Regions from separate parts of the Homo sapiens genome. Here region 2 is linked to region 1. Evidence: fine-mapped expression QTL. A gene starts in region 1. The other region holds a variant in brackets. All regions are shown on one strand. Distances are between the middles of the regions.

Region 1 (2,901 bases):
TTGGGATTATAGGCGTGAGCCATGTTGTCGTCATTACAGCTACATTGAGATATAATTTATGTGCCACACAATGCATGCCTTTCAAGTGTACAGTTCAGTGGCATTGAGGTATATCCACAGAACCGTACAACCATCACCACATTGAGAAAATTTTTATCACCCTAAAAAATCCTTTACAAAATCCTTTACCCTTTAGCAGTCACCCCATGTTTTGATTTTTGCTTTACATGATTTTACAAGCATCTTTTCCTGTTGCTGGAAAATCTCCTTACCCATCCTCTTTGGTGACTGTCAGCAAAGGCTTTCGGGTGGTGAAATAGCGTGGCCAGGAGTGCTCTAGAACAATGGTGTTGGTGAGGGCTGCAGAAGCTGAGGACCCACAGGCAGAGAGGGAGGGATGGTAGAAGCAGGTGGTGAGGAGGGACTCGGGGCAGGACTTTGGGGGTAAAAGGAAGCAAGTCTCTGGAAGCAGAACCAGCAGCACTGCTGATCATTGGGACGTGGAGAAAGGCGAAGGCTCAGGGTGTCAGCAAACTTCCTAGGGTGGGTGAGGGTTGCCAGGTCAATAACGAACAGGGTCCCAGGAAAAGGCGGCAGCACAGGTTTGGGGAGAATTAGAGATGAGCTTGGTTTTGGTCTTGTTGGATTTGGGGGCACCAGTCTCTCTCCTGGCGAGAGTCGGCAGTGGGGTGTTAGGATCTGGCCCTCAGGAGGCTGTTAGGGCTGAAGCAAGAGATTTGGGAGTTAAGGGTGTGAGGGCCACGTGGGAGGCCTCGGGAGCCTGTGCCGATCCAGGGTGAGTGTGAAGGAAAGAAAAAAGAGGGCCCGGGGAACACTGGTATTTTCGGGCGGTGGACGAGGATGGGACGGCCACGAGCTTGTCTTAAGGTAGAAGGCAGAGCGGGGCCGTAGGGGCAGTGGCGCGGGCGAGGGTGGAGAACAGCGCTGAGCCTCGCTGGGAGGCGGCCGGAGGGGGCTGCAGCCCCCGAGGGCTCCTTGCAGTCCGGCCCCGCAGCCTGGAGACAGCTCCGGTGGTGCTGCGCTGCCCGAGACTGCTGCACGAGCGGGGACTGCGGCCTCGGCTCCCTGCCTGCCCGGCAGCCCCCCATCCAGTCGGCCTGCCCGGGGTGCGCAGGGTTAGCCTGGAGTGAGCTCGCCCCGCCCGGGGTTGCGCGGCCCTGGGGGGTCCTCTCGCGGCGGCTCCTGGGACCTGCTGGCGCCCCGGGCAGAGCCCGGCCCCATCCCAGGAGTCGCCCGGACTGGAAGGCAGTGCGAGCACTGGGACACAGCCTCCGAGCTCGAGCGTGACGGGAAGTTGGGGCAATTTGTTAGTTATCCGCCGCCACCAAGACGCGGCACGGCGCCTGGACCGGAGGGGCCCCGCGCGGGCGCGAACTTTGGGCTCGGGCGAGTGGGTGGTGCTCCGCCCAGCCCGAGACGGGCGGGCGCGCGGGCCAATGGGTGCCGCCTCTTGGCCGCGGGGGGCCCCGACCCGTGGGTCCCGGCCACCAGCGCCCCAGCCCCGAGGCTCAGAAGCGGCAGGCGGAGGCGCGGTCCGGGCGCTATGGCCATGCCCGGCGGGTCTCACGCGGCTGCCCCTCGCCCGGCGCGCCTTCGGTAGGGGGCGCCCGGGGCCCAGCTGGCCCGGCCATGCTGCTGGAGACACAGGACGCGCTGTACGTGGCGCTGGAGCTGGTCATCGCCGCGCTTTCGGTGGCGGGCAACGTGCTGGTGTGCGCCGCGGTGGGCACGGCGAACACTCTGCAGACGCCCACCAACTACTTCCTGGTGTCCCTGGCTGCGGCCGACGTGGCCGTGGGGCTCTTCGCCATCCCCTTTGCCATCACCATCAGCCTGGGCTTCTGCACTGACTTCTACGGCTGCCTCTTCCTCGCCTGCTTCGTGCTGGTGCTCACGCAGAGCTCCATCTTCAGCCTTCTGGCCGTGGCAGTCGACAGATACCTGGCCATCTGTGTCCCGCTCAGGTGAGGCGCTCGGCGTCGCCCGAACTCGGGGCCCCGTCGGAGCTCCGAAATGGGTCGTCTTCTCCAGGCCGGGGTTCCTCCCTCGGGGGCCCCAGACGGGCCAGGCTGGGGGCGCGCGGGGCGCTTGGAGGGCTGGTTCCCAGCCTGGCCACCCCGCAACGCTAGACCAGTGCGCCCGGGCACCCAAGACATCCCAGATGCGCGTCGCTCTAAGGAGATCTGCGTAGGGACAGCTCTAGGGGGTCCGGGGAGTGCGGTCCCCGGCGCCCGGGGAGGCGCCGTGGAAACCCCGGGGAAAGCGTCACCCCCGGGGAAAGCGTCACCCCCGTGGGCGGGTGGAGCCCGGGGCGCGGGAGTTTTGGTGATCACATCTCCACTCCTGCCACGAAGGCCGTTCCTAACACTCGCCCGCAGCGGCGGTGCAGCGGCAGTCCCGTGAGTGCTGCGGCTCCCGGAGGCCCGGGAGGTTCCCACTAAGGGCAAGGCAACTTTGGACGCTGGGCATTCGCACCGTCAGAATGGACACGCATGAGCCAGCTTCAGAACGTGTCTGCTGCGGAGAGGCGGCCCGGCCCATCCCAGGGGAAGGTGTCCGTTAACTTTGGGGAACGCTACGGACTCAGATTATATACTTTTAAAAGGAGTTACAATGCTTCCTCGTGTCTGGCAAACGGCCTTACAGCCTCACTGCCCTTGTGTAACTATTTATCTCCTGCTGCCCTGTTGGGAGCGGGCTGAGAAGTGCAGAAAATGGTGGCGAACTTACTTGTCCACTCTTTCTCCCACACTGAGAAAATCTAGGATTCAGGGGATGGAGTCAGCCAGCGACCAGAGTGGATTCCCAGTTGGAGCTGATGACTTCAACATTGAGAGTTTGTTGAAAGTATTTATTCTCTGTCTTTGGTGCCTGGGCCAC
Region 2 (2,901 bases), 33 kb before region 1:
GGCATCTGGGCTCTGCAGGTCAGTGGATCCCTGAGTCTCAAGCCACCACTAACCTGGGGACAAGAGACTCTGCCCTGGCTCTGCTAGTGGATCCCAGCTGCAGCTCTGTATCAGAATCTTCAGGGCACCGTTTTGAAAACTGGTTACCCCAGTTGGTTGACTCAGAATGTCTGGAATGGGACCAGAGATGCAGTCTACATGTTTTGAAAGTTCTCTAGACGACTCCAATGCACAGCTGCATGGAGAACCACTAAGTGGGGCAGGGATCTCCCTGGTGGCCCCAGGGCAGGCAGCCTGTGGGAGCTCCTGAGCAACTGCTTGGCGATGGTCATTATATCACCCGCGCCTTTGTTTTTAAGTGAAACTTGAGGCACCGTCAGAACCAATTCAACCCGAGAGTTATTACTTGTGCTGCTTCACGCAACTGTCTTTTGTTGACATAATCGATGCATTTTTCTTTCTCCTTGTGCTTCTACTTTGCCTGCTATTAAAGTGGGGGAAAGTAATATCCCAAGTGGTTGAGTTGTTGGTTGTTGGGTTTAAGCTGAAATTACTCCAGGGGTTTATGTGGGGAGGCAGTTGTGGTCTTGGGATACCCGGAGTCAGTGTTTACTGTGATTGGCTCTGAGTGATTACATGTAAATGATCTAGAACCAGCTCTGCTCAAAGCAGTTTCTATGCTGGATGGTGTTGTGGTTTCCCTCCTTCCACACTGGAGCCATACCAGCCCCTCTCCAGTGGGAGCCCAAGTTGCTGATTACTTTAGCCAAACTCAGCCATTCTGGTCTCTATCCTGATCCCTTTAGGCTAACAAGAAGGAAAGAAACATCACATGAAAGAAGGGCCATGTGCAACTTATTTTTATAACTCAAGGAGGTTCCCTGACTGCCATTTTACTTGCCAATAGACATGCACGTAGAAGAGAAATGGCATGTCCTGTCCATAGAAATAACACGTGGTGGGTGGGCATGGTGGTTCATGCCTGTAATGGCAGCATTTTGGGAGGCCGAGGCAGGAGGACTGCTTCAGCCCAGGAGTTCAAGATCAGCCTGGGCAACATGGCAAGACCCTATCTCTGCAAGAAAATTTTTTTAAAAATTAGCCAGGCCAGCTGAGTGTGATGGCTCACACCTATAATCTCAGCACTTTGGGAGGCCAACGCGGGTGGATCACCTGAGGTCAGAAGTTTGAGACCAGCCAGGCCAACATGGCAAAACCCCATCTCTACTAAAAGTACAAAAATTAGCTGGGTGTGGTGGCAGGGGCCTGTGATTCCCAGCTACTCAGGAGGCTGAGGCAGGGAGAATCGCTTGAACCTGGGAGGTGGAGGTTGCAGTGAGCCGAGATTGCACCATTGCACTCCAGCCTGGGTGACAGAATAAGACTCTGTCTCAAAAAAAAAAAAAAAAAAGCCAGGCCCTGGTGGCACATGCTTGTAGTCCTAGCTACTTGGGAGGCTGAGATGGGAGGATTGCTGGAACCCAGGAGGTTGAGGCTGCAGTGAGCTATGATTGCACCACTGCACTCCCACTTGGGTGACAGAGGGAGACCCTGTATCAAAT[T/TA]AAAAAAAAAAATGCAGGTGGTGTTTCAGGGCAATGAGGCTGCCTGTCCTGAAGTGTTCACTTTTTCCTCCCAGGGAAGCCACACTATCCCAGCCTTTTTCTCCCTAGGGCCTCTGCATCTTCTCAGACAGCACAGGCTCGGATAAGGGATCATCACTTATCACCTAGCCAGGATAGCAGCCACGGCTCACTTCCCTCTTGGGCTGTCAGGTGACAAGAGAAGCTGTGTCCAGGAGATACCACGTCTCGTTTGCCCAACATCTGATCACCTGCAGCTGTCTTCAGCTGCTCAGTGGTTCACACATGCATATGCAGGCATATGTGAACACATGCACACAAACACGCACGCACACATGGGCATTTTATGGAGGGCCAATGACTTAGCACTTGGGACGATCTCTTCCGTATTTGCCACTGTTTGGGCCCCATTAGGGAGGTTCCCATCCTGTGGCCTAGACTGCTACAAGAATGAAGCATCATCTGTGGACATTTCGAGCCTGGGCTGTCTGAGCACACACACTTTACAGGTACCTGGCTTCAGGCCACTTAGTTGCACTGAAGCCCCAGGGCTTATTCCTGCGCCTCTGTAGCCTAGATTCGTCAGATGGTGATGGAGAGAAAACACTCACCCTAGAAAGTGGTCGTATTAAATGAGGTGTCAGGTGAGAGGCTCCCAACGTGCCCCCTGAGGCATCTGTTGTTGCACTGTCTGTGGCAATGGTCTCTGCTGCCCAGAAGCCCATGGCACTTGCCCACCCTGTGTCCCTTGGCCCACAGCTGGCTCTTCCTTCCCTGAGCCAGAAGGGCTTGGATTCTTAGGCTGTGCATTTACACCCTGCACTCTGAGCTCCTTGGAAGCAGAGCTGTGTATTTACTGACTCAAAATGCTACAGCCTAATGTGTAACAGTTGCTAAATAGATAATTTTTGATTAATTAGTGGAAATATCCAGCTCCCACTGATGGTCATTCTGACTTGGAATTCTTCACTGAACTCAAGGAATAAACACCTCCGCATCCAGCCTGGTTTCAGAGCTGCAGTCAGTCTTGTCAACAGTTGTTTCCAGCTTTTCCAGCTTGATGGTGAAAATCCCAGAATTGCAAACAAGAAGGACCCCTGGAGGGAAACTCAAAACCTGGCCATTCTAAGACCTTTGTCATTTTTCCTTCTTTCTCTGCTACTATCACTTATGGTATCATGAATGGACACAATACATTTCCAAGCAGAATCTCTGAACCTTCCAAACTCATTAAATTCATACATTGTAACTTGACTCACCTGCCTTATTAAAACCTTACCAACATTTTTCTAGATTATGAAAAATATGCTATAAAAAAATT

Which allele goes with the higher level. Alleles are on the strand shown, and positions count from the first base shown. SD is a standard deviation of normalised expression in the study named.
With allele TA in place of T in region 2, the expression in monocytes of the gene that starts at base 1,532 in region 1 is higher (large effect, 1.0 SD a copy in Quach 2016).

Evidence for each region.
Region 2: its variant is fine-mapped to the expression of ADORA2B in monocytes (Quach 2016, PIP 0.94).

Annotation. Positions count from the first base shown.
Region 1 is chr17:15,943,599-15,946,499 of GRCh38, forward strand. ADORA2B (adenosine A2b receptor) reads left to right here and starts at 1,532. Exons shown (of 2, transcript NM_000676.4): 1 at 1,532-1,985. The coding sequence starts at 1,651. RefSeq lists a silencer at 1,088-1,707 and an enhancer at 1,535-2,349.
Region 2 is chr17:15,910,822-15,913,722 of GRCh38, forward strand. It overlaps a transcript of ADORA2B not described here. Among named protein-coding and RNA genes, the nearest start is that of ADORA2B, 33 kb to the right of the region's middle. The variant T/TA (reference allele first, on the strand shown) is at 1,563.